Homo sapiens: one gene and its partners. The protein of the gene in region 5 purifies or fractionates together with the protein of the main gene of each other region. This does not show direct contact. Each region holds a gene or a part of one and is shown on either strand. Other genes may lie near its edges. The genes, in order: ACSL6, SURF4, HACD2, SPTLC2, SLC35F1, SEC62 and GOLGA5.

Region 1 (4,110 bases), on a different chromosome or scaffold from region 5:
AAGAATGGAATAAATTACAGTGAGAGAGGAAATATACCTTCAGGTATTGCAGTCTTAATGCTATGCAACACAAGAAAAAGGACCAAGGGGATTTTCCTTAACATTTCTTTAGCATCTGCTATCAGCCAGAGCCGCACTGGGCATAAAACTTCAAGCAACTCAGTCTACGTGGGGGTGGGGCAAAAGGACCATCAACCAATCAACCACGTGGGAAGCTTCTCAGAGAAAAGGATGCTGGAATCTGAGTTTTAAAAGATGAATGGTTGGAGTTAGGGGAATTAGAGGAAAGGGCATTCTAGGAGAAAGGGACTATATGTGTAAAGGCAGGTAGGCACAAGAAAGTATGATGCTTTTAGGGAACTACAAAAGTAATGAATATGATTGGAGCCGAGGCTCCATAGAGGAGGGAGTAGAAGAGATGCTAGTCCCTGTGTGCTGAACCAGCGAGTTTGAAGTTTATCCTGGAAACTATGGGAAGTCACTGAAGGACTATTAAGCAGGAAAGTGGCATTTTCAATCTAGATTTTCAATTTAGAAAGATTGCCCTGGCTGAAATGTGGATGGCGAAATTTGAGGATGCTGGAATGGAAACATGAAGGCTAGTTAAGAAAGCACTGTAATATTCCAGACAAGAGATAAGGGTGGCACAAACTACACTAATAGCTGTAACAATAGGGAGGAATGGATGATAGCAAACATATGGAGAAGGCAGAATCTGTCTATCTTGGACACAGCAGAATTCATTATTTTAAGAAATTGTATCCATTATTCTGAATATGAGTAAAAGACATGGAAATTATATTTTAAAGGCCACCATCATGGAAAATTTGAAGACAGTTATTTGTTATGTATTCATAAAAATGATTTAAATCCAGGAGATATCTGACAATAGCAAAAATTCCAACAGAGGCTTGAGCAAAGGAGCTCTTCTCTGGATGGACCATAATTTCTTGGAGTTTGTGGAACTTTAACAGAGGACGTAGAGTACGGATGTAAAGTATACTGATTGGTAATGCAGCTTGGTACTATGTTTATCATAAGCAGTAACTGTGATTGATAATTACCAAATATACTCACATGAGGGTATTATATTATGCAAATATATAAAATAGTAATTATAAGCAACTTTGAGAAATGAAAAATCTTTTATTTTTTACAAAAATTTTCATAAATGCATTTTATATTTAATATGCATGCTACTATAACAAAGCAACTGAAAATGTAATTACAGTTAAGATACTTTTATGCATATTTAAAAAGTAATATTTTAATCCCCTCGATTTTTAAAAATTGAAAGTGGAATAAGCAATTCTTCAAAAAATATCCATTCTCCCCCATGCAACTGTTGCAATGATTTAACAAGGAAAATTAGAATAATCGGTCAAATGAATGTTTAAAAGCCACTGTCACCTCATGAAACCCTTTCCATTTGGTACCAAGTTTAGAAATGCTCACATTTCAAATATTTATCTACTGCCTCTGTGTTACAACCACTAATGTGTTCTAACTGAAGAGTTTCTCATTTGGGGTATTGACCTTACTTGAATGCTAACCCACTTCTTATTGCAGTTAATTGTAAATTCATAGAAAGTATTTTCTAGCATACTTGAGAGGAAATTCAGACTACTAGGATCCTTTTTTCTTTTCATGTAAATGCTTCCTTAAAATTAAAACCGGCAAGGAAATACAGCCAATTTATAGTTTACCAATTTTATATACGGTTATTCATTCTTTTTTTCCTGAGATATTAAGCACATTTGTAAGTAGTCTGTTTTCATGCAAAAATATATTTTCCCATTCTTCACATTCATTTTAAAGTATTTTATATTTTAAATAACTATATTGCATTTGTGCTTCATACATTTGGAAAATAAAGGATATTTCATTTTCTTTACTGCAGAAAAAGGAAAGGTTATTGGTTCTTTGATAGGTAATACAATCAAATTAAGTGCTGATTTCAAGTTGCTAAAACATTACCTGATTGGAAAAAATTCCAATGGAAAGTTCTATTTTTTCTCATACTTGTAGTTTTAACTACATGTAGAATGAAAGCATGACTTGCATAAATGAAGGAGACATAAAATGTTTAATCCTTGGATTTCTGAGTTTATGAGTTCCTAATACATGGGGCTAGGCCTACACACTATACCTGACCAGAGTCCCGTCTCTCATTTGCAAGGGAAGTCTCAATATTATATAAAGACATCTTCCACAGCAAAAGGAAAAACAGATTTGGTATATATTTTATAATATACACAAAAGGATCTGTTTGCAAAATATGAGAATTACTAATACATTTGAATAACAGATAAAAAGGCCAAACATTTAAGAACATATTTACACTTAAGGAACTGATTATCTGTTATACTTCTAGGCTTAAATAGATCCAATGCCCAATATGAATGTGACCATCGTAAGTACATCACCTTTTTCTATCTCTGTTAATGAGAAATACAGATTTTTTTCTCCTCCAGAATAAAGTTGGGAAATCTGAAGCAAGAAGGATTTTTCCACTGATACATAGGGTTTCATTTCTCATTTCTTACAAAATTAAGTGGCATTAAACAGAGAAATAGATAAATGTACATGCAAGATATTTAGGGTACACTATTTACTTTTCTCAGCACATCTGAACTAACCCATTTATTGGCCCAAGTGTGATGATTTCCACATAGACCTGGAAATCTAGAAATATAAGATATTTTAAGTGGCAAAAAGAAGAAACCTTGTTTTTGTTTTTTTTTTTTCTTTCTTTTTGAGACGGAGTCTCGTTCTGTTGCCCAGGCTGGAGTACAGTGGCGGGATCTCGGCTCACTGCAAGCTCCGCCTCCCAGGTTCATGCCATTCTCCTGCCTCAGCCTCCCGAGTAGCTGGGACTACAGGCGCCCGCCACAACGCCCGGCTAATTTTTTGTATTTTTTTAGTAGAGACGGGGTTTCACTGTGTTAGCCAGGATGGTCTCGATCTCCTGACTTCGTGATCTGCCCGCCTCGGCCTCCCAAAGTGCTGGGATTACAGGCATGAGCCACCGCGCCCAGCCAAAAAGAAGAAATATTAAGTTGTCCATAATCTGTTATATCTAACTATTATAAAGTATAAATAAAACAAAATAAGTTTTACATTACTTGTTTCTGTCACATTGTTCAAAATTCTTTTGGGCTTAAAGCCAACTATGAATTTTAGTTGAGTAGGAGGACAATGGGAAACAGATTCTTTTTTTGTTGTTATTGAAATGTAAGCAACTTGCCCTTAAAATAGTATGAATATCCAGTTCAGGTAACAACTTTCACTTTTAATTAGTCAAATATATATTAAATATAAAAATCTAATGCTGTACAGATGTGACTTTGGACATTTTAAGTATTAGTTTATTCAGAAACGCCTTTAAAAATCAGTGTGTATAGAACTAGCTCATTTCTTAACTGTCAAATTTAGAAGTGCAACAGTGGGTCTTCAGAGAGAATATGCCCAAGAAAAACTGGATAAAAAGACTGGGTAAATACATCAAATGAAACAGTGATTCACTTTTGACAAGACTGAAATATAAGTATATAATCACTGATGCATATTTATTCAGTAGGCCCATGTGATTATGTGGTTTTTAACTAACAGCATTTATTTTTGCAAACTGCTTGGCATTCCTCCAAGGGAAAGGAGCTTCTAGACTACAAACACTGAGCACATACATTTTAAATTAACACATGAATTGCATATGGATTGTTGATATGCTTTTAGAGTCTTGTCTCTACAGAAGAAAAACACGTTCCTGGGGTCCATGCCTTTTTCAGAGGCACAATCTATAGCTTGGAACTTAATTGCTGTCCATGGTATCTGGCCTTTAATTATAAGAAATTGTTGACACCCCAATACAGGGTGCATCTAAATACATAATGCAAGAAAGGAGGTTTTAGTGGTTAAACTTCGGCACGCTTAAAGATTTTAGGAATGTAATTATGCCATTAGGCAGTATTTCTTTGTCTATGGACTTAAAAAGTTTTCTTGGGGCATTTTAAAGAGGTTTATCAAAGTTATATTGTTGAAAAACTATTTTCCCTGGAAATAATGTCCCCTCCTTCCCACCTTCTGCCTTGATATTCTTACTGGAAAAAA
Region 2 (4,424 bases), on a different chromosome or scaffold from region 5:
TTACCACGCCCCTGGGTGTTCAGGTCACCCTCCAGCCTGTCAGGTGGGGCCCTGACTAGGTCAGCACTGCAGATTGGCTCCCATGTGGCAGAGAACGGAGGCAGAGATTACAAAGCCAGGTGGCCATTCTCCCCAAACCCACTGCGCCCTGCAGTGTCAGTTCTGCACACATTTACTCAGCCTTTGACTCCACGGAAGTGATGGGAGAAATCACAGTGACCGACAGATACCCAGAGAATCACCAAGTGGGTTTGGGAGATGAAGTGCAGGTGGAGGTTCTGAGGCCCTGTGATCTCATCCTGCCCTGGTACCATCCAGCCAGCACACCGTGTGACCTGGACACGCCCAGTTACTTTTTTGAGAGTGTCTCTACTATCCTGCAGTAGAGTGAGGCCACCTGAACTAATGGTTGGTAAGATGCTTTCCAACTTTACTAGGAGGAAGACCTTGTTTCACTTTTTATTTTTAAAAAGGCCCCAAATACTCCCCTGTGAATTTTAGGGCCAATGCAGAGAACCAGCACAAGATGCCCATGTGCACAGTGTGACGCAACCTGCATCACACTGGGTGGTGGGAAAGGTGACGCCACACACCCTCCCCAGGTTCTGCCTCATGGCCCCGTTGCTCTCTAAATGCCCAGCAACAGTGTAATCACCCATATTCCATGGAAGAGAGAAAGCACACCACCGTGGCACACGATGTGCCACTGCTCTCAAGGAATGGCCTCACATCGTGGCCCAGCTGGGAAGCCCCAGCAAGGACACAAGCCTTTATCTCATCTGAACCTGGGGAAAAGCAACCACTGGGAAGGAAGAGCTCAACAGGAGGCTGTCCAGACCTCTGAGATGAGACGGAGCCGTGGTGGGACTCCCAGGGCAGGGTGTGGGTGTGGGGCGTGGACCCCAACAGCAGCAGAGAGGTAGACTGCAATCCATACCCAAGACAGACACCAGAGGTGTTCTGACTTGCTTCTAAAATGAGAGCTGTGAGCCACTCACTGGCCTGAGATGAGCAAACCAGCCCAGCCATGGGCTGCGGTCTAAGCCTCCCCCAGTTGCAGGACCTGCATTTAACATGCTCATCTACGTGCACAGCCCACGAGATTGAGGCAGTGTTTAAAAGTCTCTTTGAATGAGTCTGCGACTCTTAATTTGAGTGTCTGGGTCAAGAGGATTAAAGAGCAAAAAAGAGAGAGAAGGTGGGACAGGCAATTCACACCTCCTTCCCTGCGCAAACATGGTGACGAAACAGACACAGCTCTTGGCTTTGGGGAAAAATATGCAAAAATCTAGGTACTGCCTTCTGAACTGAGCACACCTACTGCTTGGCTGTCCTGGTTTTCAAAGGCAAGCCTGGTCCACACTGAAGGCTGAAGTCAGGCTGATGCAGTCTCCTCTAAACTGGCCACCATTTAATGAGCATCTGTTTGGACTGAACACTGAAAAAGCCACGTTTAAAGACAAGGCCCAACATTAACCTTATTTCCTACATGCATGTTGGTCACAACTACTTCAACTTGGCCACTGGAACCATGTCATGCCACTCTAGAACACGTCCCAGAGCCAGTGTCCCCTCAGCACAGCAGAGAAGAGCCCTCAACACAGGCAGGACACACAGCACCCCAGGACAGACAAGAGCAGCCGCACTGCAGGCACTAAGGCCATTGCTGGTAGCCAGCACACAGGTGACCTGTGTAAACACGGCGAGCACATAAAACTTGTGACAGTCCCCCTCCCCCCCATTAGAGAACTGCGACAGCAGAGCCAGAGGTGGCTGTTGACCTGGCAGGCTGCAGGAAGAAGATGACAGTTAGCTCACCTCTGTGGCCAAGCTTCTCATTAAGTCTCTCCGAGAACCGCGCCATCAAGCAGGATATGGTTCATAAGCAGTGACAGCATCTGAGGGGCTTAACAGGAAGACTGATATTTCTCTCAAAGGGGTGGTTATTTTAGACGACTGAAGGGGATTTTAGAAACGTAATTAATTATATCCACCCTGAGATGACTTCCTGGGCATCCAGTGATCACTGTCACAGCCACCTGCAGCTCCCACGCCACACAGAAAACTCCACTTTCTCTTCACACTCAGGACAGAAAGAAATTGAGGAAAGCAGCTTGCAAATTCGTGGTGAATGTGAACATCGACGAAAAAGGCAGGTCAGATTTCCTTGATCACCAAGGACTGGGGCTGCCTTGTTCAAAGCCCAACTCAGGTCCCACACATCCTAGAAACAAGCACCTGCGGCCCAGCGGCTTCCCTCACATCAGCCTGTCAGAGCTGGCTCGAGCTCACTGGCTCACTGCAGCTCCAGAACTTCCCCGAGCCCCGCTCCCATGCTGCTCTATAGGTTCACACTGCACCCTGCAGGGCCAGAAAGGATGTCGCCAGCCCAATGTGGGAGATGATGGCCTGGCTTTACTAAAAAACTGTGTGATCAAAATCCCAACTATAGGAAAGACGTAACTGAGAACGACTGGGCCCCATGTTCTGGGAGGAGCCCCGCTAACCACAACCTCCTCTGCTCCTCGCCCGCACTCCCCTGAAGAGTGAGTTTTAACCTCCCGTTAAGATCATCACACAAAGAAAAGTGAGTCAGCTCCTCTTTGCCTTCTCTCCCCACTCCTTCATGATATAGGGCAGGGTATGACAGAGCCTGCCACTGTCACCAGGACTTTGCCACACCAGTCACCAGCATGGTGTTCATCGGGACCCTCACAGTGCCTGTGCCACCTGCAAGTTCAGGGGTCCTCAGGCCTATCCTTGCTTCCCCAGCACTTCAACTAGGGCCGAGGCCAGCTCCTAGGGCCCAGGACTAGCTCTGCCACTCTTGAGGACAGGTTAAAAACACCAAAGGTCACACTGGAGAGGAAGGCCCCATGCAGCTTTTCTGTCACCTTGGTGATGAGCCACCAGGCAGAACCCATTAAGTGCTAATATTGCTGTTTATGGGTATAAACTGCTTAGAAGCTACATTTTACAGAGTGTCTAATAGGCAATGAGGAGCAGCTGCAGGCATGGACATTAGTTTGGATTGCTGAGTTCATTAGTTTCTGGACCCTTCCCATGGCTTCCAAATGCCAAGCTCCTGCATAGAGCACGTCTCAGCAGTTTCTACAGAGCATGGCTCCTGGGAGCAAGAGGACACTGTCCCTGGCTGCCAGAGCAAGCAGCTTGATGCCAGAGGCAGAGAGACAAGAGATGCAACTGTGGGGAGCCTGCCAGCAGAAACTAACCAGACTGCTCGTCCCCGTGGACCAGCCTCTGCAGGCCAGAAGGAAAGATCAGTCAACCAAGCAGTGAGGAACCCAGCCTTTGGGGTAACAGGATGCGGACTCAGTCTCCAGGCCACCACAAGCCAGTGCGGCCAGCCAACCTCCCTCTGCCCATCTGAAGATGGTGACGCTCTGGCCAACCTCCTACAGTCAAGAAGTTCACAAAAGGAATGTCTATCATGGACCCGGCCCAGTGAAAGACTTAATGTCATTGTCATAATACTGGAAGACACTGGGCCTGGGAAACTAAGCTTACTTAGGTCTTGCTTTCAGCAGCCCACACTTTCTGGTCAAATCTTGTCACTTCAGTTTTGCTCTTGTTTTCTGAAGATGTGAAAAAATGGATGTGTCACTTTATCTGATCAGTGACTTCCATGGTAATCCTCTATCGGCTTCAAATTAGGTCATTTTCATGTAAAAGCCTGGTCTGGCAGCTTTAAGTACTATGTGAATAAAGAGAAACAAAGCCCCACCTGGGCTTGGTCAGATTCTGTCCACAAGAAGCCATATTTTGACTTCGAACCCTGTTTACTTGCCTGCATCTGTCTGATTGGGGTTTGGGCGAGTACAAGTAGCTGCCCTCCCAAGCTGCCCACAAAAGGGCATGGAAGCTCCCACAGCCATGCTCTGCCACCACCTAGACGGACTCTTAAGGAGATCATCTGACGGCGGCAGCCTGCGCTGCCTTACAGATATGGTGCCTTACAGATATGGTCCTAACCCACTTGGGTTTTGTATGTGAGCAGCCCCTTCACCCGCTAGTGCTCTTCCCTTGACTTGTGCCAGAAGAGCAACACCAGGGGCTGGGGGCGCTGGGGACCAAGACCCGGCTTTTCTTGGTCTTGGTCACAGGCAAGTCTAGGAGCCTGAGCAGGTTTGGCCTCCCCTCAGTAACCTGGGAGAGGTCGACTCTGTGCCCCCTCAAGAGCCTTTCCAGTTCCAAGCTACTGCTTCTTTCATTTAAAACATAACAGAATACATGATGAAGGCTGGGCGCGGTGGCTCAGGCATGTAATCCCAGAACTTTAGGAGGCCAAGGCGGATCACCTAAGGTCAGGTGTTTGAGACCAGCCTGGACAACATGACAACATGGCAAAATGCTGTCTCTACTAAAAACACAAAAATTAGCGGGGCGTGGTGGCGTGGGCCTGT
Region 3 (4,424 bases), on a different chromosome or scaffold from region 5:
ATAACAACATAAAAGACTATCTTTAAAACCTTTTTTTTTTTTTATCACCTTGTTCATTACAAGCCCTGGCACAATTATCCTCCCAATGTCCTCAAGTTATAACACTGGAATCATCTTTGATTATTTTCTTTATTTATTTTTTGAGACCGAGTCTCACTCTGTCACCCAGGCTGGAGTGTAGTGGTGCAATCTCAGCTCACTGCAACCTCCACCTCCCAGGTTCAAGTGATTCTTGTGCCTCAGCCTCCCAAGTAGCTGGGACTACAGGCATGTGCCACCATCGCTGGCTAAGTTTTTGTACTTTTGGTAGAGATAGGGCTTCACCATATTGGCCAGGCTGGTCTTGAACTCCTGACCTCAGCTGATCCGCCTGCCTCGGCTTCCCAAAGTGCTGGGATTACAGGTGTGAGCCACCACACCTGGCAGTTAGTTATATCTTAACAAAGCTGTTACTAAAAAAATAAATGGCCAGAAACAGTGGCTCACGCCTGTAATCCCAACACTCTGGGAGGCTGAAGCAGGAGAATTGCTTGAGTCCAGGAGTTCTAGACCATCCTGCACAACATAGCGAGACCTTGTCTCTACTAAAAATAAAAAACATATTAGCTCGCCATGGTAGCGTACGCCTCTAGTACCAGTTCTAGGGAGGCTGAGGCAAGAGGATTGCTTGAGTTTGGGAGGTTGAGGCTGCAGTGAGCTGTGATCATGCCACTGCACTCCAGCCTGGGTGACAGAGTGAGGTCCTGTCTCAGAATAAATGAGTAAAAGTAAATAAATACATAAATAAATGTATAAATGAATTATAAAACCTGGTTATATAATTGTGTAATACAGCTAACAGAGCTAATTAGTAAGTCAAACATTTAGTGAATATATTTAGCCAGATCACACTTAGATGGGACAATATGCAGTTGTGGATTTCCTCTAGAAACCAATTTAAAAAAAAAAATATATTGAAGATGGAAAGCTCATATACTGCAAAACAAGGCTTATGTTTTAAGCCATTCTTGTAAAATAATGTTTAATATTTAGGAAAATGGCAGAATTGTACTCTTCCATATTTCTATTATAATAGACCTATTTTGAAAATCATATTTTGCTTATTAACATGTTAAGTTTCATTTTGCTGGGAGAGGGGGATTAATGAGGTTGAAGCAATAACTACCTAGGCACCTGTAAGGAAAGCACCCATATAGAGGAAGCCTTTGATTTCTTTGATTTCAAACAAACAAACAAACAAAAAGTAAAAAGAAAAGAACTGAGAATTAAAGGATTTCTTTTTTTAAAAAAAAGAGACCAGATTTCACTCTGTCACCCAGGCTGGAGTACATGACGCCATCATATCTCTCACTGCAGCCTCAAACTCCTGGGCTCAGGCCATCCTCTCGCCTCAGCGTCCCAAGTAGCTGGGACCACACGGTGTGCCAGGTAATTTTTTTTTTTTTTTTTTTGAGACGGAGTCTTGCTCTGTCGCCAGGCTAGAGTGCTGTGGGGCGATCTCAGCTCACTGCAACCTCCAACTCCCTGGTTCAAGGGGTTCTCCTGCCTCCGCCTCCCGAGTAGCTGGAGTTACAGGCATAAGCCACCATGCCCGGCTAATTTTTATATTTTTAGTAGAGATGGGGTTTCATTATGTTGGCCAGGATGGTCTCGATCTCCTGACCTTGTGATCCGCCTGCCTTGGCCTCCCAAAGTGCTGGGATTACAGGCGTGAGCCACTGCGCCCGGCCTGCCCAGGTAATTTTTTAAAGTTTTTGTAGAGACAACGTCTTGCTATGTTGCCCAGGCTGGTTTCGAACTCCTAAGCTCACACAATTCTCCTGCCTTGGCCTCCCAAAATGCTGAGATTACAGGCGTGAGCCCCCATGCCCAGCTAAAGTAACTTTTTGTTGTTGTTGTTGTTGTTTTTAGATGGAGTTTCACTCCTGTCGCCCAGGCTGGAGTGCAATGGCGCAATTTCGGCTCACTGCAACCCCTGCCTCCTGGGTTCAAGTGATTCTCCTACCTTAGCCTCCCGAGTGGCTGGGATTATAGGCACGCGCTACCATGCCCAGTTCATTTTTGTGGTTTTAGTAGAGACGGGGTTTCACCATGTTGGTCAGGATGGTCTCGATCTCTTAACCTCGTGATCTGCCCGCCTCAGCCTCCCAAAGTGCTGGGATTACAGGCGCTAAGAGTAACTTTAAACAAATGGAACTAGAAGGTCTAGGGGCAAAAACTGCAATTCAGCTGAACACAGGTTTATTAATTATTCCCTCTCCACTATAAATCACCCTTCTCTAGGGAATATAAATTTGTATTTGTCTCCCTTTCAAAAATGCCATACATAAATTAACAGTGTTTTTCTTTTCTTTTCTTTTTTTGAGACAGTCTTGTTCTATCGCCCAGGCTGGAATGCAGTGGCACAATCTTGGCTCACTGCAACCTCCGCCTCCCAGGTTCAAGTGATTCTTGTGCCTCAGCCTCCTGAGTATCTGGGATTACAGGTATGCACCACCATGCCTGGCTAATTTTTGTATTTTTGTTAGAGGCGGAGTTTCAGGTCATCTGAAACTGACCTCAGGTCATCCACCCGCTGCCTCGGTCTCCCAAAGTGCTGAGATTACAGGTGTGAGTGAGCCACCACACCTGGTCAACAGTGTTTTTCTTAAAAATGCTTTAGTATCCACACACACACACAACGATTTATTTAGTGTATTTCTCACCAGTCTTTTCCTCTAAGCATATTTTAAACCAGTTTAACTTCTACTGTTTATATTGTTTTTGCTTTTCTCATTTAACATTTTAAGAATTTTCCTTCTCTTCTTCAAAAGATTTTAGCTTAAATCATGATATTCCTTTGAGTTAATATGTTTGTTTATTCTCCTTCTGTGGGACATTTAAATTGCCTCGAATTTCTTGATACTATAAATGAAGTAATGAAGCATTACAAATAACACTCAAAATTCGAGGCTTAGACCTTTTTTTAAAAAAAGGATTATTTCCTTGGGACATTTTCCCAGAAGTAGAAGTACTAGGTCAAATGGCATGAATGTTTTTAAGGCTCTTGAAATGTATTGCCAAACTGCTTTCTAAGAAGTTTATTACCAATTTATACTCCCACCAGCAATATACAAAAGTGCCTGTCTTAGCACACCTTTGGCAGTAAATTTAAATCTTAATAAGTAGTGAACAAAAAGCTGATCAATACTTTCTAATTGAAGTAGATGTCAAGATGTTTCTGGCCTTGCCTGCAGGTGCTTCTACCGTTCTCTATCCAGTGAACTCGCCTACTTAGACACCTTAATTTTCCCCAAATCATGTCATTCAGACCAACTGTCACTTAGTTTCTCTGTAGCATAGACAACTACTTCAACCAGTCACCCAGCAAACAGCAGTTCAGGCCCTCACCTGACAGCACAATCTCGAAATGCCTGCTCTACTGGACCAGTCAAAAGGCCAAGAGCTCTATCCCTGAATTTAAGCTAAAGAACAGATGGCCACATAGATGGGCATTATCTCAGCTCTGAACAGAGCTGGCATCACCAAGTTGGGCTTATCATTATTATCAGGTGAATTTCATAAGAAACTAAGGCCAGGCACAGTGGCTTACGCCTGTAATCCCAGCACTTTGGGAGGCTGAGGTGGGCAGATCACCTGAGGTCCGGAGTTTGAGACCAACCTGGCCCCTGGCCAACATGGTGAAACCCCGTCTCTACTAAATACAAAAATTAGCCGGGCGTGGTGGCAGTCGCCTGTAATCCCAGCTACTCGGGAGGCTGAGGCAGGAGATCTCTTGAACCCGGGAGCAGAGTTTGCAGTGAGCCGAAAACGTGCCACTGTACTCCAGCCAGGGTGACAGAGTGAGACTCCGTCTCAAAAAAAAAAAAAAAAAAAAAAAAAAGACTGTCAAACAGTATTAATATTACCTTATTTGCCGTAGGAATGGTGTACAGTATAATGTCCACCCTATCACTCAAAGCCTCTCATACAGGTAGGAAATTTGTTTTAGAGCTCAATGTTAAGAAAGGTTTGCTCCTTTCCAATAATAAGAATTATATAACTCTGTCACCCTCTTTAACTTGGTAGCCAGAAACCTTCACGCTAGATCTGAAGCATACTATAGTGTGATATTTTGTGTATGAGCTACCACAAATCGTTGTAGAATGTGGAATATAGATAGACAAGACAGACTAGATTCTCTCTTTGATTGGACAGGGTCTCACTCTGTTGCTCAGACTAGAGTACAGTGGCACAATCATGGCTCACTGCAGCCTCAACCTCCTGGGTTCAAGCCATTCTTCTGCCTCAGATTCCCAAGTAGCTGGGACAACAGGCATGTGCCACCACGCCCAGCTAATTTTTGTATTTTTAGCAGAGACAGGGTTTCGCCATGATGCCCAGGCTGGTCTCGAACTCCTAAGCTCAAGTGATCTGTCCGCCTC
Region 4 (4,424 bases), on a different chromosome or scaffold from region 5:
GGGTCTTGCTCTGTTGCCCAGGCTGCAATGCAGTGGTGTAATCACGGCTCACTGCATCCTTGATCTCCCAGGCTCAAGCAATCCTCTCATCTCAGCCTCCCCCATAGTTGGGACTACAGGCATGTGCCACCACCACACCCAGCTAATTTTTTTACTTTTTTGTAGAGATGAAGTCTCACTATGTTGCCCAGCTGGTATTGAACTCCTGGGCTCAAGTAATCCTCCCACTTCAGCCTCTCAAAGTGCTGGGATTACAGGTGTGAGCTACTGTGCCCAGCATAACCATTCTTTAATACTCCGAATATTGAGTGGTGAAGCAAAATTAAGAACATTTATGAGCACCTCCTCTGTGCCATATACAAATACCTGACATACATTATTTTTTCCCTAACATTGCAATCAACGTTTAAAAATAACAGCTTCATTGTGATATAAGCCACATACACAGAATTCACCGTTTTAAAGCACAATTCAGTGGTTTTTAGTATATCCAGAGTTGTGCCACTTTTACCACTAATTTTAGAACATTTCCATAACCCTGAAAGGAAACCTCATACCCATTAGCATTCACTTTCCATTTCCCTATCCCCTCCGCCTCCGGCAACTACTAATCTACTTTCTGTTTCTATGCTTATTCTAGGTATCACATATTTTAAAACATGCAATATGTGACTTTTTGTGACTTTTTTCACTTACCATAATGTTTTTAAGGTGCACCCACGTTGTAGCATGGACATATATTACTTTTTAAACCCTTACTACAATCTTACAAGCTGGGCATATTTATCTCCATTTTACTGACAAGGAAACTGGGAGGTTAAATGTTTTCCCTGAGGTCTAACAAAGTAAGCCGAGAAATATTCAGACCCAGGCCTCTGTCTTTATGGTTCACCATTTCGACCACACCACAGATTCTTACCTGCATCAAAATTCACCGTATGATTTTTTTCTGACTACAAAGACCCAGAAAAGGCAACTTCATAGTTTAAAAATTGAAAAATACAATGCTTTGTAGTACCCCACAGCTGGCACAACTTTTTTGCTTCCTGTCTCCATGTTCACTCATGATATATTTGTGTCCAAGGGCAAGGTGACCTGCTATTCCCATGGGCTCCCATGACAACCCCACTGTTTTTGAAACTGTGAGCACAATGCAAACCCAACAGAAGGCTGGGGCGGGCAGGGAGCACCACTGTGTGTTCTTTCACACAAGAGGGTATTCTATATCTCAGATCAGCATGTAGCTTAGAAAGAAGCTCAAATAAGAAAACAACAAACAATGAACAGAACCAGCCTTTAGTTCAGTGAGGAGACATTAGAGTCACTCACTGGTATTATGAGCCTAAACCAGAGGCAAATTTGCGGACATCCCAGTTCAGGGCCCCATCTGCTAGGCCTGAGGTACCAAATCTAATTGCCAGTGACTTTATCTCTAATCGCTCATTCTCATGGCTCGTTTACCTTCTTGCCTCCAATATATCCTCCAGAAGCACCAAAACTCTTTGTGAACGTTCCCATCATAACATCCACATCCTCGGGATCCAGGCCAAAGTACTCCACCACACCCCGGCCTGTGGGGCCCAGGGCGCCAATGCTGTGAGCCTCATCCAGATACAAGTATGCCTTGTATTTCTTCTTGAGGGCAATCACTTCAGGAAGACGAACAATAGATCCCTCCATGCTGGCAAAACATGAAAAAATATATATATACACATATACACTGAGACTTTTTAAATCAAAATTGGGAGTTTGGCACTTCATTATTATTGAGTTTACTGCTTCTTTTTTTTTTCTTGGGACAGAGTTTTGCTCCATTGTCCAGGCTGAAGTGCAGTGGCATAATCTCGGCTTACTACAATCCCTGACTCCTGGGTTCAAGCGATTCTTGTGCCTCAGCCTCCCAAGTAGCTGGGACTAGAGGTGCCCGCCACCACCACGCCCAGATAATGTTTGTATTTTTAGTAGAGATAGGGTTTCCTCATGTTTCCCAGGCTAGTCTCGAACTCCTGGCCTCAAGTGATACACCCGCCTTGGCCTCCCACAGTTCTGGGGTTACAGGAATAAGCCACCCTGCCCGGCTGAGTTTATTGGGTTTTAAATGGTCTGACAACTGTATCTGTGGCTTAAACTGACAAAGGTAGATGAAGCCATGGCAAGGCAAAAGACTAGGGGAAAGAAAACTGGACTTTTAAAACAAGCACTGGCTGGGCGCGGTGGCTCACACCTGTAATCCCAGCACTTTGGTGGGCTGAGGTAGGCGGATCACTTGAGGTCAGGAGTTCGAGACCAGCCCGGCCAACACAGTGAAACCCCGTCTCTACTAAAAATACAAAAATTAGCTGGGCTTGGTGGCACACACCTGTAATCCCAGCTACTCGGGAGGCTAAGGCAGGAGAACCGGGAAGCGGAGGTTGCAGTGAGCCGACATCCCGCCACTGCACTCCAGCCTGGGTGACACAGCGAGATTCCATCTTAAAAAAAAAGCCACCCAAACCACCAAAAAACAAAAAACAAGCACCAAACACAAGCAATCTTAATTCACGACAAAAATAATTAAGGTCACAGCAGATTCTTCTAAAGCTTGTAATTACAGGCAACATGAGACTTTGCATCACGTTGCACAGGCAATTAAAATGACACAAAAGAACAAAAAAAATTAGGTGGTAAAAATACGTGTAAAAGCTGTAAAGGTTAACCAAAATAAAATATTTCTTTTTAATTTTTATTTATTTTTTACAGAGACAGGGTCTCACTATGTTGCCCAAGCTGGTCTCAAATTCCTGGCCTCGAGCGACCTCCCACTTTTGCCTCCCAAAGTGTTGGGATTACAGGCGTGAGCCACTGCACTCAGCCTAAAATAAAATATTTATTAAAATTAAATGGTGTGTAATTTGTTTTGACATATTAAAATATATATTCCAATTCTTGCCCCTACATATAGGTTCCCTCTACAAACTAGAAAAATAAAAGACTCAAATAGAAAGGGGATTTGGTGACCATGTAGTATTATGGAAAGAATAACGAAGAACTAGACAAAAAGACTTCTGTTCTAATGCTGACTCTGTTTCCAGGTATTTTAGCGACTTATAAACACTGTCTCCTTAGTTTCCAGAGGGGGATAGACTAATGTTCCCTTCAGTTAAAAAATTCTATGACTTCATGGGGCCAAGTCACAAAGGTAAGAATAATAAAGCAGGATTACCTATATATTCCTTCCACAAGGATGAGAATTTTCTTCCAGGGCCTTCGTGTCCGAGGCTGACCATAAACAATGGCATCTTTCAATAGCTTCTCTAGGCTTTGCATATCTACAGAGCACAAAAAAGAACAGTTATACCGCATCTTCCTCTTTCCTAACTTTATTCCGGAAATGCAGAGATATATTTCTCATTCAGAAACCATGCCTCAGATAGCAAAGGACATAATTAGAGTTGGGCAGAAAAAAGCAGGGCAAAATAGGTGAATTATTGCCACCTTGAATTGAAATCCAAAATGTAACAAATGTTCAAAACCATCGAAACTTGACTAAAGGACGGTGGTGGCTAACTCAGTTCATTAGCTTCCTTATAAAATGACCAGTGTCTCATGTTAAATACCCTGCCATTAAGTTAGCTTCTGTGTGTTTATCGAAAAATACAGAATCAAACTGTATCTCTAATCCCAGTGAGTCATTCGGAAATAAATGCGTAAAAAAGACAGAGCGAGAGAGTGTGAATAAACCATCACAGACACATACTCCTCCTAAAAAAACAAACGCAAGGCGTAAAAAAACTTCACAGTGCGTGCTCCATTTCCTTTCACCCAGGACGTACTCAATAAACGCTTGTTAAAGAGTTTTATTTTGGTACTGGGTTAAAAATACACCCGTCTGGGGCATGTATAAGTCTGTGTGTTAAGCAAGCCTGACAATCAGTTGAAATTGTTCCATGTTTGACTTCATCAGTTGTCCATAAACAACCAAGTTCTTGTGGCTCTGTTGGTTCTTATGGTGGTTAATGGGCCTGGAAACAACTTGGCTGCTACTGCCATTAATGATGATCATAATTTCCTTGTTAAAGACAAATGCTTTGAAGACCATTGTTGCCACACTACAGATTTCATACTTAAAATACCTGCCCTGAAATGAAGTCCTTAAAAAAAACTCCCCCAAATTTAAGCAACATTAAGTCTGGGGAATACTTAATAGGGGTGGGAGACATCCTATCATAAAATCTTTTTTTTTTTTTTGAGATGGAGTCTCCCTCTGTCATCCAAGCTGGAGTGCAATGGTGTGATCTCTCCTCACTGAGGCCTCCACCTCCAAGGTTCAAGCAATTCTCCTGCCTCAGCCTCCCAAGTAGCTCGGATTACCAGCACCCGCCATCACGCCAGGCTAATTTTGTACTTTTGTAGAGACGGGGTTTCACCATGTTGGCCAGGCTTGT
Region 5 (4,424 bases):
ATGCATCTCTTTGTTACTTCTATCTCATTGTATTGAAACTAATGCCTTTATACCTCTCGCCTCAGCTGGACTGTGATGCCTGTACCATGTTCTTCACTGTGTCTACAGCCAGGCAGTACCATTCAGAGGAAGTAGAAAATAGAGGGATTCAAAGACAGTGCAGAGGAGGCGTAGGCAACAAGAAACAGTTTATTGAAATAAAGGGGGTGATTAATAAAAAAAAGAAAGAAAGAAAGGTAGAGGTAAAAAGGAGTACCAGAATTAACTCAAACGATTTTAAAGGCCAGGCGCAGTGGCTCACACCTGTAATCCCAACACTCTGGGAGGCTAAGGCAGGAAGATCACTTGAATCCAGGAGTTCAAGACCAGCCTGGACAACATAGTGAGTCTTCATTTCTACAAAAAATTAAAAAAATTACCCAGGTGTGGTGGTGCATGTCTGTAGTCCCAGCTCCTTGGGAGACTGAGGCAGGAGGATTGCTTGGGCTTGGGAGGTCAAGGCTGCAAGTGAGCCATGATTCCACCATTGTACTCAAGCCTGGGCTACAGAGCAAGACCCCACCTCTTATAAAAAATTAAAGGTTTTTAAGACTGCCTAAGATAAGTATAATATCTACTGACAAAAATAATGATAAGGAGCTGGTTTTAGTGGAGAAACAATACATATTTTAGGTATATTGAACTTGAGTTGCCAGATGAACTTCCAAATGATCCAGCAGCATTAGTAGCATGGGATCAGAGTGGGATAGGGAGGTCAACCAGGAGATAAATATGCAGAGGTTATACTCATAAAAGTGATGGTGAAAATACTGGAAATGGATAATATCCCTAAGAAAGGGAGAGTAGGAGAGAAAGTAAGAGAGCCTTGGGAAATATCTGCAGAATCCCAAGGTTGGAGGTGGGTGAGGGAGAAGAAGCACATCACTGGAGTCGGAAGTGGTTAGAAGGCTAAGAGGAAGAGCAAGAGAGTTTTTTGGTGTTAAGGAAACCAAAAGGAAAGAGACATTCATGGATTGAATAGTTGTAATACTGAATGTTGCTTAGAGGGTAGAGAGAATGAGGACTGACAAGACATAATTTGTAGTCACTGCCATCCTTTAAGAGTTTTGGTTGAGTGGAGAATAACAGCCGTATTGGTGTCATGAAAACCAAGAGAACAGAGAGTTTCATGGAGGGGATAGCTAGTAGTGACTAAGTGAAAAGGAAATGGTGAGAAATTAGAGATGTTGACTTTGCAGAATTTTGAAGAATTCAAAAAATTCATGGAAGGAATTTGATATAGTCACCATGTAACATAATATCAATGATAGTTAAAATAATAATGTTTAAAATGATTTAAAAATTAATTTAGCTTATCCTATCACTGGGTCATTCTTGATTATTTGCATAATAACTTACATTCCTAAATGGAAGAAATATGAATAGAGTTACAACTAATATATAAGAGTTGTTCTTGATGCTGAGTATGTCTCCTGGAGAATGCTGTGTATGGAGTGCATCTCTTTGGGACAAGAAGGGTGAAAATTATTGCTATGACATGGATTCCTGCAGTTCTATAAATTACAACTATAGTGTTCAAAAACTTTGGCAATATGCTATGCCTTTCCTGAACAAAATCACACCACAAATAAATGACAGATTAGTTATATAAGAGAATACAATTTTAGTCTTTCTTATGTATATGCGCCAATATAGTATAAAATAGCATTCTATATGTCACACACTATGCATGCAAAGATGAACAAGACACAGTCCTTGTCACTGGGGAGCTACAAAACTAAGATTTGGGAGCTAGGTCCTCAAATAACTTAGTACAAAATGGAGCCGATTAAGCTAAAACAACAATAATAATTCATATTTAGTAAGTTCTTACTATGTGCCAAGCCATGAGCTTAGACTTACACATACTATCTTAGTTAATCCTCATAAAAACCTTATAAGGCAGCTATTATTACTGTTCGATTTTATAGATAAGTTAACTGATGCTTAGAGAAGTTACGCAAGCAGCCCAAGGTCACAGAGCTAACAAGGGGAAGAGTTTGGATGCAAACTAGGTTATGTGGTTCCAAATCTCAACTTTTTAATTATTATGCTATACTACTATTTTGGTGGCAAAAATATACTGTGTGTCCTGATTGAGTGCAAGAACTTACAGCTAGAAACCTAAGTGGTTGGTTTCCAGAAATACTCTAGAGGAGTTAAAGACAAAAACAAGTTTGGGACTGACCCTCTGATGAAAACTCTTCCATCAAGATATCTGTAATGTGTGCCTTTCAACAAGAGGTCAATACAAATCTATTCTTGTTTCTTCAGTCAAACAAAACATCAAGTCTGCTGTATTCAATTTCTGCTTTTAATTAATGGCCATGTCATTCAGCTGCTGCTGGTGTGATTTGATGGAGAATACAAATTATGGTTTTATTCGTCATGCTAATGAGCACGACATGTAAAACCGGAAGGAATGAAAGGAACCTTTTATCAGATTAGTTCATGAGTCTTTTTCCTACTGCAGGGAGCTAGATATTGTAGCTATTGCAGCCTGCACATCTGAGCTAGTTCCTGGAGTCACCAAATAAATCAGTAAATAAAAATAGAAATAAACCTAAATGCCTAAATGTTGACACTCTGCTAACTATACCCCCTGCCCTGCCATCTTGCCCTGATCAAATTCTCTTTCGTTCTCTATTAGCACAGGACAAATCCATTTGGCGATGTGTTGTACAAAAATGTTCTCCCTGCTCTCTCTGCCTTAGGATCTCTTTAGTTCATTTACTGTTGCACTATCCCTTCTAAATATTTTTTCCTTAGATAACTGCTATGGTAGATCTGTGGTCCTTTCACCTAACTCCTCATGGCCTTATGACAATGTCTTCTTCAGAGACCCTCTGTTTAGCCACTCCCTGCTCCCAAGGGTGAGGCAAGTGTCCTCACCTGCATTTCCCTATCACTATTGGCACTCACCATATTGTGTAGCTCATAAGCTCCTGAAAAGAAGGGAATGTATTTTATTCTTTTCTGTTTCTAGTGCCTTGAGGACTGCTGGACAGAAAGAAAACAGATGCTCAATAAACACAGGATGAAAGAGTGAACAAATTTATGAGTAAACAAATATCTGTAAATGAAAATGGCAAAGTCTTAGATTTGGAAGATGGTTGCTTATCTTACCTTGAAAAACTACTAGCTCTGAAAGACAAAAATCATGTTGTTTTTTACTGTATTCCATCTGCCAGTTAGACATTGAGATTAATAAGCTATTTTCTGGTGCTTTTCAGAACAAGCCTGGTAAGGTGCTATCTTGCAAAAATGATGCTAAATATGGTGCCGGTTGGAATTTTGTACAGCGAGCTGTAGGTTATTCATGTAGTATATGGAATAACACACCAGATGCATTCTAACATAAGAAACATAGTTCCTATAATTTTAGTGGCAGAAATGGAGAGGAGACTATGATACACATTTTCATCTTCTTTGTTTATGCATTTAAAAGGACATCCTATCCACTTTAAACTCAGAATGACTAGACAATGAAAAATGCATGAGTCTCAAGAAAAATAGTGCTGCTGGAAGCTAAATACCTGTTATAATAGAGCTTGTATTCATAAAGACTGACATAACCATTACCACCGGCACTTCGTTCTATTAAAGAAACAGACTTTAGAATTTTGAGAGTAAACTTGTGTTACAAATTAGATATTCAAAATAGTAAGATTTAAAATAAAGCATAAACTTAATCTTGTTTTCTTCTCTTAGTTATAAGAATACATTCTTTTAAAAGGTATGAAGAATTTCAACATAGTGTTACATAATCATATTGCTTGTAATTCTTTGCCACAAAAGTGAAACAATTATGTTATCATCTTGAATTACAGCACATCAACTTTTCTGTGGCGACATCTTCATTCTGATAACTATTCTCAGGAAAGTCATGTCAGATCTGAGTCAGCATATGAATTCAAACATGCATACATAATGAACACCTAAGTATACTGCCTGGACTAAAATCAATACCCCTTGAAAGTGGGAGAAGCGTGTTCTACCATGTTCTTTGACAAGATTCTTGTTTGCAGAAGTTAGGCCATTGACTTCTATAAGCTCTTTGCTGAAAGGTTTTTATCACATTCAAGCATTAATTAGACTTATATGTAAGAAGATTATTAGGCAAGAAGAAAATATACACCTCCAGAAATTTATCATTAATTGGGTATCTTTGCCTCACATTCTGCATTCATGGACTTGAATCTGTTCTTTGGCTCCATGGTATCCATTTTGTTTTTCTAATTAGATAAGAGAAACCAAGTAAGACGCAAGGAAGTGCTTTAAACATAATGTTTTACTGGCACTAAGTGTAGGAGATTTTTGAGACTGGTGTGAGAGGAGCGGTCACAGATGCTCATGGATGCTGTATGTTTTATGTTTACAGAAGT
Region 6 (4,424 bases), on a different chromosome or scaffold from region 5:
ACATGAAATGTGAATAATATTAAAATTGAATTATGCGAAGTATCATTGGCCTTTGAATAAGTTATAGTCCTATTTGAAACATTGGTGGATCTGATTAGCTAGGGCAGGGGTTCTTAACCTACAATTCACAGACCTCTAAGGGATTCACGGATAGAATTCAGAAGATACATGAACTTGGATGGGAAAAATTAACTTTAATTTCACTAGCCTAAAACTAAAATTTAGTATTTCCTTCAATGACGAGTGCAGACAACAATCCACAGTTGTACTAGCAGTAACTTTGTCAACAGAAATCAGGTATTTTCATGTTACATCACAGTTGTTGCAGATATCTAATATATGTTTTATGCTACTTCAACATCATAGCAGTTATTACATCCACTCGTAGATCTGGCTATTAAATGCACACCTATAACTACCACATCATAAATTATTTGGTAGCTTACACTTCAGTGTAATTCGTTTCCCTTGTAACCCCATGCATTTCCTTTTCTGCATTTAAAAACATTATTCTGGCCAGGCATGGTGGCTCATGCCTGTAATCCCAGCACTTTGGGAGGCCGAGGCAGGTGGATCACCTGATGTCAGGAGTTCAAGATCAGTCTCGCCAACACGGTGAAACCCTGTCTCTACTAAAAAATACAAAAATTAGCTGGGTGTGGTGGCATGTGCCTGTAATCCCAGCTACTTGGGAGGCTGAGGCAGGAGGATCACTTGAACCTCAGGAGGCGGAGGTTGCAGTGAGCTGAGATTTCGCCACTGCACTCCAGCCTGGGTGACAGAGTGAGACTCCATCTCAAACAAACAAACAAACAAAAAAAACCCATTATTCTGAGGAGTCCATGACACAAAAAAGTTAAAGTGATCTAGGAAATCATTGAAAATGAAATAAGACCAAAGTGTGATGATATGACCCCCTTGAAATTTAACTTATCTTTCCCTCTTTCTGTCATGCTAAGAAGAGATCATAGGCCTTTTGGACAATCCTAAAACTATAAACCTCAGAAAATATGTCCTCTCTCAGACTGAAATTTCGTCTGATTGGAAAAGCCATGCAATTAAAGTATCAAAGGATCTCTGTGCTAGGTTGGACAAATGAAATAAACGCATTGGGACCTACTCAGAAACTCACAACTAACTGCTTTAGCCATTGGTTTAAGGGCTTGCCAAAGAAGGCAAATTTAAATTAATCTCCTTGTGTAGTTATCTGCATGACATTCACTAGAACAGGATTTTAGTTATCAAAATGCTTACAACATGCTGTATAAAGTTATGAGATCTTTTCTAATGTTTGGTGATAAGGATCTGACAAAGAGGTCAATTCCTCATTGGAATTTTTGTTCCCTAGGAATTTCTCCTTGGTATTGGTCTTGATTCCAATAAGAAACAGATGGTTCTTTACATGAAGATATTATGAGGAGATAAGTATAGGTATAGGCTACCCAAAGAGGAAGCACAGTAGCTTCTGCAACTCCAGGCTAGTAGCAGCAGAACTGACATCATCCTTGGCCAGAAAGGAAGAGTGCAGGGACTGGCAACCTGGAAAGCAGGGAAGGAGTTTGGGAGAAGTGACCTTTGGCTGCTAAGGCAGCCCCCCAACCCCAGGAGAAGAGCCGAGAATAGGCACCCTACCATCCTCTGATCTCTGGCCAGGACACTCCTTGGCCAAACCCACTCAGAAGCCAGGAGGCATAGGAGCCCACTGCTGTGGTCCATTCGGGTCAGCTTTGTGGGCAAGAGCAGAGTGGAGCTGGAGGGGAAAACAAGAGATATCCAGCACATGTAGCAATTTGCTGCCGTAGCACTTAACACACTATTTAATGGTGCAAGAGAATTGTATTTTTATTCATGGTTGTGCCTAGTAAAATTCTGGTACATGGTAAGTGCTCAGTATTACTGAGTGAATGAGCAAAGACCTGAAATACTGTGGAAACAGTAAAAGCAAATTACCACACAATTAGGAGGAATTATTTTCAGACATAGGATATTTAAAACATCACTCAAATACTGGAGCATGATTCAGCAATAAATTCTATTCCATAAACCAGGTAGATAAATGTCACAGCTTTAAAATATAGTTAAGTACAGTTGATCCTCGTTATTCATGGATTCCGTATTTGTGAATTTGCCTAACCTAAAATTTTGTGGTACAGCAAAAAACTTGCTGTACACATATTCTGAGCTGAGGTTGAACAAGGCCATGTTCCAGCTTTCATACTATAAACGTGTCCTTTTTACGCTAATGCCATGGTTTTTGCATTTCTGTTCTTTTTTTGATTTCACTGTTTAAAATGGCCCCCAAGCATAGTGCTAAGGGCAAAAAGCTGTTCCTAAGGGTAAAAAGGCTGTTGTGTGCCTTATGAAGCTTATGTGTCAGATAAGCTTCATTCAGGCATGAGTTACAGTGTTGTTGGTCATGACTTCAATGTTAATGAATCGATTATATTAAATAAGGTGTCTTTACAACAGAAATTTACATGTTGACTGCTTGATGAAAATGTGACCAGTGGCTTGCAGAAATCTAGCCTTGTATTTCCCCTAGGTTCTATATTTGCTAATTCAGTGTTCGCAGTGACTTTATAGAACGTAACTACCTTGAATAATGAGAATCAACCATACTTGCTGTTTTCCAGTTCCTAATAGATTTAAAAAAAAAATTCAATTTACAAAAGACACAAGATGACTTTTCTTGTCAGCAGCTAACTGATCCTCATGATGTAAAACCAGAAAGAGGGGGGAAACACCAAAATTCATCACCACTGCATAATTTCAATGTGATATATTAAAATTTATTACTTCCTGAATAGTATTCAACTAAATCTATATTATTTCAATTAAAGTTACCTAGGCCATATGGTTTGAAAATTGAAAAATCCAGTAAGAGGGAAAAGGAAAAATACCTTATTTAATACATTGACTTTAAGAACAATCACATATGCATTATTCTTACTATCTGAACTTAGCCTCTGGTAAATTCAATCCTGCTTAGTTAGGCCAATTGATACCCTCTACAATAAGCCCTACATGATCAAAAAGCTTCATGCTTTCTACTTACAGCAGCATAGCAAATCTGAAGTTCTTAAAAAAAAATCGCCATTCTATTAACAATTATAAACGATTTTCCATGCTCTGGTACAAGAATATTTAATGTTAGCCAAGAAAGATAGCCATCTATTCCACTGAGGATTGTAATAGAGGCAGCCTTTTGATTTTTATATTTGTTTAAAGTACACAACTTGAATAGTAAAATAGAAACTGAGCTGAAATTTCTAATTCACTTTCTAACCATAGTAAGAATGATATTTCCCCCCAGGGATCACCAAATATTTATAAAAATTTGTACTAACATTCTGTAAGAATCCACACACATCAGTAAGAAGCTGACCTTCCTGTTGGCCATGCTCCAAATGTCTTTAAGACTAGACAAATTACATATATTATAAAAAATTTCAGGATGAATATTGAGTGCCTGGGTATTATCACAGTAATAGTAAAGGTTAATGAAATAATTTTTATTTCTGAAAAACACCATGTTTATACCCCAAAATAGGTATCAATGTTACTGGTGATAAACTCAGAAGTGATCATTATATATATGCTTACTGTGGAAATGAAGTAGTAGAGCTCTGCAAATGGGACGGGAAAATACCCAGGCACTTCATCAATGAACATTTATTTGCTAAAAAGAAACTATTAAAGTGATTGCAGCCTTGACATAGTTGCATTAACATCAAATAGCCACATTTATGTCCACTTACAGGGACTACTATAAAGAAGCAATCAAGCCAAGTTTAATAAAATGTGTCGATACAGAAAACATATTTTTCACAATTAGAAAAATTTAACATCTTTAATTCAAACACTTAGATGAGAAACAGCCTAAAGCAAAGACTGACATACACTACCTATTTCAACCACAAAGCAAGATGCTCTCACTGTGACTGAAGAAAAATCATTTAATATTCATTATTAGTTAGTATAACTCCAAGGAATGATTATGCTCATAAGTAAACAAGAGTTTCCAAAGACTTGTAACTAAGATGTATAAGACGTAAAGTCAAACTGCAAAACTAGTTCAAAGCAATTAGAGTCCAATAGTTCTCTTATGTTTTCTTTCATTATCTTTATTTTAAATTTGATATTTTAGAATAGGAAATTATCTTTCACAGCAATGCCTCCTGGTCTGATAATACAGTATCTCATTTCTGAATGTAAAGATTTAAAATAAATCAAAATGAACATTAAGGCGTACAAAGCTACTTTAAGTCTGCTCTTAAGATCAGTTTTTGCTCATATTCAAAATACATGGAATGTTGGCACAAAACTGAAGCTGCTGTAGAAAGATCACAGATGTTCTGTGGGTTACTCAAACTTCCATTTCTCTAAAAACATACCCTTACATGGTCTTAATTTTATGAATTTAA
Region 7 (3,500 bases), on a different chromosome or scaffold from region 5:
AAGCTTACTAAACTGGAATTTTCAAGATGGGTCTGGGAATCTGTTTTTTAAGAAATTTCCCAGGTGAACCTGGTCACTTGGATACTAGGTCTGGTCTGATACTAGCTGATCAACTGTTTCCAATTTAATAAGTAAATAAATAGGTGTAAATTACACCATATTTTAAAGAACCAGTATTCAAAAAATAATGTAAAATATCTCATTAATAACTTTTAATATTGACTACATATTGAAATAATTAATACTTTGGATATATTGTGTTAAAATTAAGAGACACACACTACCTGATATTTACTTTCAGGACTGAATTACTTTCACCTGTTGAAAAGCTAGCCCAGACCAGTGGTTTGCAACCCTGACTGCTCATTAGATACACCTGTGAACCTTCTAAAACCAAAGTGTCAATACCTAGTCCCTACCTCATACAATGGAATGTGACTGCATATGGAGCTCAGACAGCACAAGGTATCACACAAGTGATTCCCACGTGTAGACAGGGCTGGGACTGAACTAAATGCAAATATTCATCTAAGAGTAAAACTCTTTACATATTACATACAATTTTCTCCTGAAATAAATGAGCCAGATTAATCTGGAATCAGAAAAACTTAAATTAATAAAAAACAAATACGATCCCCCAACCATTAGCATTTAATCAAATAATGACAATGATTGTTGCAAAAATTAAGTAAAAGATGTATATCTCTAATGCACATTAACTATTTTAATTGTCTCTCAACACATAAAATTAAATACATTTAGCAAGGATCAAGCTAAATTTTCAAATATCTGATTTTTGTCACAGAAACAGAATTTTCTGAAATGCATTGCAGAATTATATTAGACAGTTAATGTGCTATGAAACAGCATAAAGTCATTTTTTCCGTGTCCAAGTAACAATAGGAATCTGCTGTCTCTCATTCTAACCTGCATCTGTTTATAGCTCTCCTGCTCTCTCTTCAGAGTGGCATCCGCTTCATGCAGTCTCTCCTGAAAAGTCTGCAGAGCTTGATTCTGCAGGCTGTTACCTTCACTTTGATCCTGCATTATTCTAAAGGAAAATGCATCATGTGAAATAACTCATGTCTACAGTGTACAAGTGATAAGGCAGAATAATTTTTAGAGCGTCAGCTTTAGTCAAGCACAAAAAAGATAATTTGACTGAAATATTCTTAGATAAATCTTTCCTTTCTAATGGAACATAATCTACATTTTTAGGCATCCAAATATTAAGTACATACCGTATAATGAAAGATTAATGACACAACAAATGCTTTTAAATTCAGAATTTGCTAACAATGCATCTCAAGGTTCAAACAATGAATCCATTTTATGTTGTTGTTGTTGAGATGGAGTTTCGCTCTTTTTGCCCAGGCTGGAGTGCAATGGCACAATCTCAGCTCACTGCAACCTCCACCTCCTGGGTTCAAGTGATTCTGCTGCCTCGCCTCCTGAGTAGCTGGGATTACAGGCATGTGCCACCACCCCCGGCTAATTTTTTTTCTGTATTTTTAGTAGAGACGGGGTTTCTCCATGTTGGTCAGGCTGGTCTCGAACTCCCAACCTCAGGTGATCCACCTGCCTCGGCTTCCCAAAGTGCTAGGATTACAGGCTTGAGCCACCACGCCCAGCCAATGAATCCATTTTAATCATACACATTTCTAACACTACCAAAAGAAATATTCCCTCTTGTAAATTTCCAAGAAAGCTAAGTTTCATAAGTGGATACACTACAATGTTTACCATTACTTGCTCATTTTTTTCATTATTCATAGAATCACCTACCGTGATTTTTCACTCTGTAAGGCTTCTAATGCTTCTGTGCGAGTACTCAGTAGCTGGTCAGCTTCCTGGAGTCTCACTTTCAGTACAGCCAGCTGGGAATCCTTTGCAGCCACAGCTTCAGTCAGGTCATCTACTTGGGCTCGGAGTCCTCGAGTCATTCGATCACTCTTTGAATGGTCAGCATTCCACTTTTCAACTCTTGCTCTTGCTTTGTTTAATTCTATTAAAAAATTTAAATTTCTCTATACAAGCAAAACCAAACACATTTTTCTCAGAGCACGTACAGTTTCTACTTTGAGTGCCTTTAGTACTTTCCTTATTGACAAAATTGGGAACTTACACGTCTTCAATTTTCTTTGCCCCAAAGGGTCATCCACTTTTCAAGGGCAATATTCACAGCTAGATTATAGTTAATTGATTAGAAAGGGGCGTGAAGCTAGCTGCTCTTCTACAATGCTGTTTCTATATGATAAAGCATCTGGGAGCCGAAACTAGTATTAATAGATAGCAGAGTATATTTTGTAAAGTTCTGCTAGTGACAGGGAAAGGAATGCAAATCCAAATCAAAGGTACATCCTAGTAAGAACAAAACAAAACCTAAACACAGAAAAGAATCTATTGCTTTCAATTACTGTTGCAAAAAGATGTTATTCTTTTGACCTAGGAAATCAATGCAAAAAGAGCAAAGTAGTGCTCTATTTCAGAATACAATGGCATTTCCATACCCTCACATACCATATGTAATTGCAGTTAGCCACCACAACATTTTAAAAATACTGAATCAAACTTTATAGGGTCTCAAAGCTTTTTTTTTTTTTCCAGTGAGACACACCTTTCTTAAAGAAAAAAAAAAAAACCCAAAAACATGAGACAGAGCCTCACTCTGTTGCCCCGGCTGGAGTGCAGTGGCATGATCATGGCCCATGACTCACTGCAACCTCCAACTCCTGGGCTCAAGCAATCCTCCCACCTCAGTCTCCAAAGTAGCTCAGCCTACAGGTGTACACCACCATATTCAGCTAATTTAAAACAAAAAAAAATTGATTTTTGTAGCCCAGGGGTCTCACTCTGTTGCCCATGCTGTTATTGAACTCCTGGCTTCAGCAATTTTCCCATCTCAGCCTTCCAAAGCGCTGGGATTACAGGCGTGACTCACTGTGCCTGGCCAAACAGCTCTATTTCTATGTCTAAATTAGTGTGGGTAAAGTAAAGCTTTTTCTAAAGTCAGCCTGACTAGTGAGTACTTTGTTTTTGTTGTTGTTGTTGTTGTTGTTGAGACGAGTCTCGCTCTGTAGCTCAGGCTGGAATGCAGTGGCACGATCTCGGCTCACTGCAACCTCCACCTCCTGGGTCCTGGGTCTGGGTTCAGGCAATTCTCCTCCCTCAGCCTCCTGAGTAGCTGGAATAACAGGCACGCGCCACCATGCCCAGCTAATTTTTTTGTATTTTTAGTAGAGACGGGTTTCACCATGTTGGCCAGACTGGTCTTGAACTCCTGACCTTGTGATCCGCCCGCCTCGGCCTCCCAAAGTGTTGGGATTACAGGCGTGAGCCACCACGCCTAGCTTAGTGAGTCTTCAACTATCTTCCCTTTCCTCTCTTCTAGGCTCTATCCATGGCTTGGCAAAACTTTTCCCACCATCCCCTCACTCCTTTCTAATTAGCCCCAGGAACCAAGGCAGCAATTTTGTCACTCGTTTTCTTCTCAGCCACAC

Evidence for each region.
Region 1: the proteins of SLC35F1 (region 5) and ACSL6 purify together in Homo sapiens (affinity purification with mass spectrometry; one large-scale study listed by BioGRID and IntAct). This does not show direct contact.
Region 2: the proteins of SLC35F1 (region 5) and SURF4 purify together in Homo sapiens (affinity purification with mass spectrometry; one large-scale study listed by BioGRID and IntAct). This does not show direct contact.
Region 3: the proteins of SLC35F1 (region 5) and HACD2 purify together in Homo sapiens (affinity purification with mass spectrometry; one large-scale study listed by BioGRID and IntAct). This does not show direct contact.
Region 4: the proteins of SLC35F1 (region 5) and SPTLC2 purify together in Homo sapiens (affinity purification with mass spectrometry; one large-scale study listed by BioGRID and IntAct). This does not show direct contact.
Region 6: the proteins of SLC35F1 (region 5) and SEC62 purify together in Homo sapiens (affinity purification with mass spectrometry; one large-scale study listed by BioGRID and IntAct). This does not show direct contact.
Region 7: the proteins of SLC35F1 (region 5) and GOLGA5 purify together in Homo sapiens (affinity purification with mass spectrometry; one large-scale study listed by BioGRID and IntAct). This does not show direct contact.

What each region holds. Positions count from the first base shown.
Region 1 is NC_000005.10:131,948,847-131,952,956, forward strand, and holds the end of ACSL6 (long-chain-fatty-acid--CoA ligase 6), read right to left. Parts: 3' UTR 1,127-4,110; downstream 1-1,126. UniProt on the Homo sapiens protein: Catalyzes the conversion of long-chain fatty acids to their active form acyl-CoA for both synthesis of cellular lipids, and degradation via beta-oxidation.
Region 2 is NC_000009.12:133,369,058-133,373,481, forward strand, and holds part of SURF4 (surfeit locus protein 4), read right to left. Parts: exon of another isoform or gene 1,865-4,424; coding exon of another isoform or gene 1,819-1,864; intron 1-1,818. UniProt on the Homo sapiens protein: Endoplasmic reticulum cargo receptor that mediates the export of lipoproteins by recruiting cargos into COPII vesicles to facilitate their secretion.
Region 3 is NC_000003.12:123,528,977-123,533,400, forward strand, and holds part of HACD2 (very-long-chain (3R)-3-hydroxyacyl-CoA dehydratase 2), read right to left. Parts: intron 1-4,424. UniProt on the Homo sapiens protein: Catalyzes the third of the very long-chain fatty acids (VLCFA) elongation four-step cycle (condensation, reduction, dehydration, and reduction).
Region 4 is NC_000014.9:77,553,839-77,558,262, forward strand, and holds part of SPTLC2 (serine palmitoyltransferase 2), read right to left. Parts: intron 3,309-4,424; coding exon 3,203-3,308; intron 1,682-3,202; coding exon 1,462-1,681; intron 1-1,461. UniProt on the Homo sapiens protein: Component of the serine palmitoyltransferase multisubunit enzyme (SPT) that catalyzes the initial and rate-limiting step in sphingolipid biosynthesis by condensing L-serine and activated acyl-CoA (most commonly palmitoyl-CoA) to form long-chain bases.
Region 5 is NC_000006.12:118,147,674-118,152,097, reverse strand, and holds part of SLC35F1 (solute carrier family 35 member F1), read right to left. Parts: intron 1-4,424. UniProt on the Homo sapiens protein: Putative solute transporter.
Region 6 is NC_000003.12:169,993,858-169,998,281, reverse strand, and holds part of SEC62 (translocation protein SEC62), read right to left. Parts: 3' UTR 1-4,424. UniProt on the Homo sapiens protein: Mediates post-translational transport of precursor polypeptides across endoplasmic reticulum (ER). Proposed to act as a targeting receptor for small presecretory proteins containing short and apolar signal peptides.
Region 7 is NC_000014.9:92,807,805-92,811,304, reverse strand, and holds part of GOLGA5 (golgin subfamily A member 5), read right to left. Parts: intron 2,006-3,500; coding exon 1,786-2,005; intron 1,052-1,785; coding exon 928-1,051; intron 1-927. UniProt on the Homo sapiens protein: Involved in maintaining Golgi structure. Stimulates the formation of Golgi stacks and ribbons. Involved in intra-Golgi retrograde transport.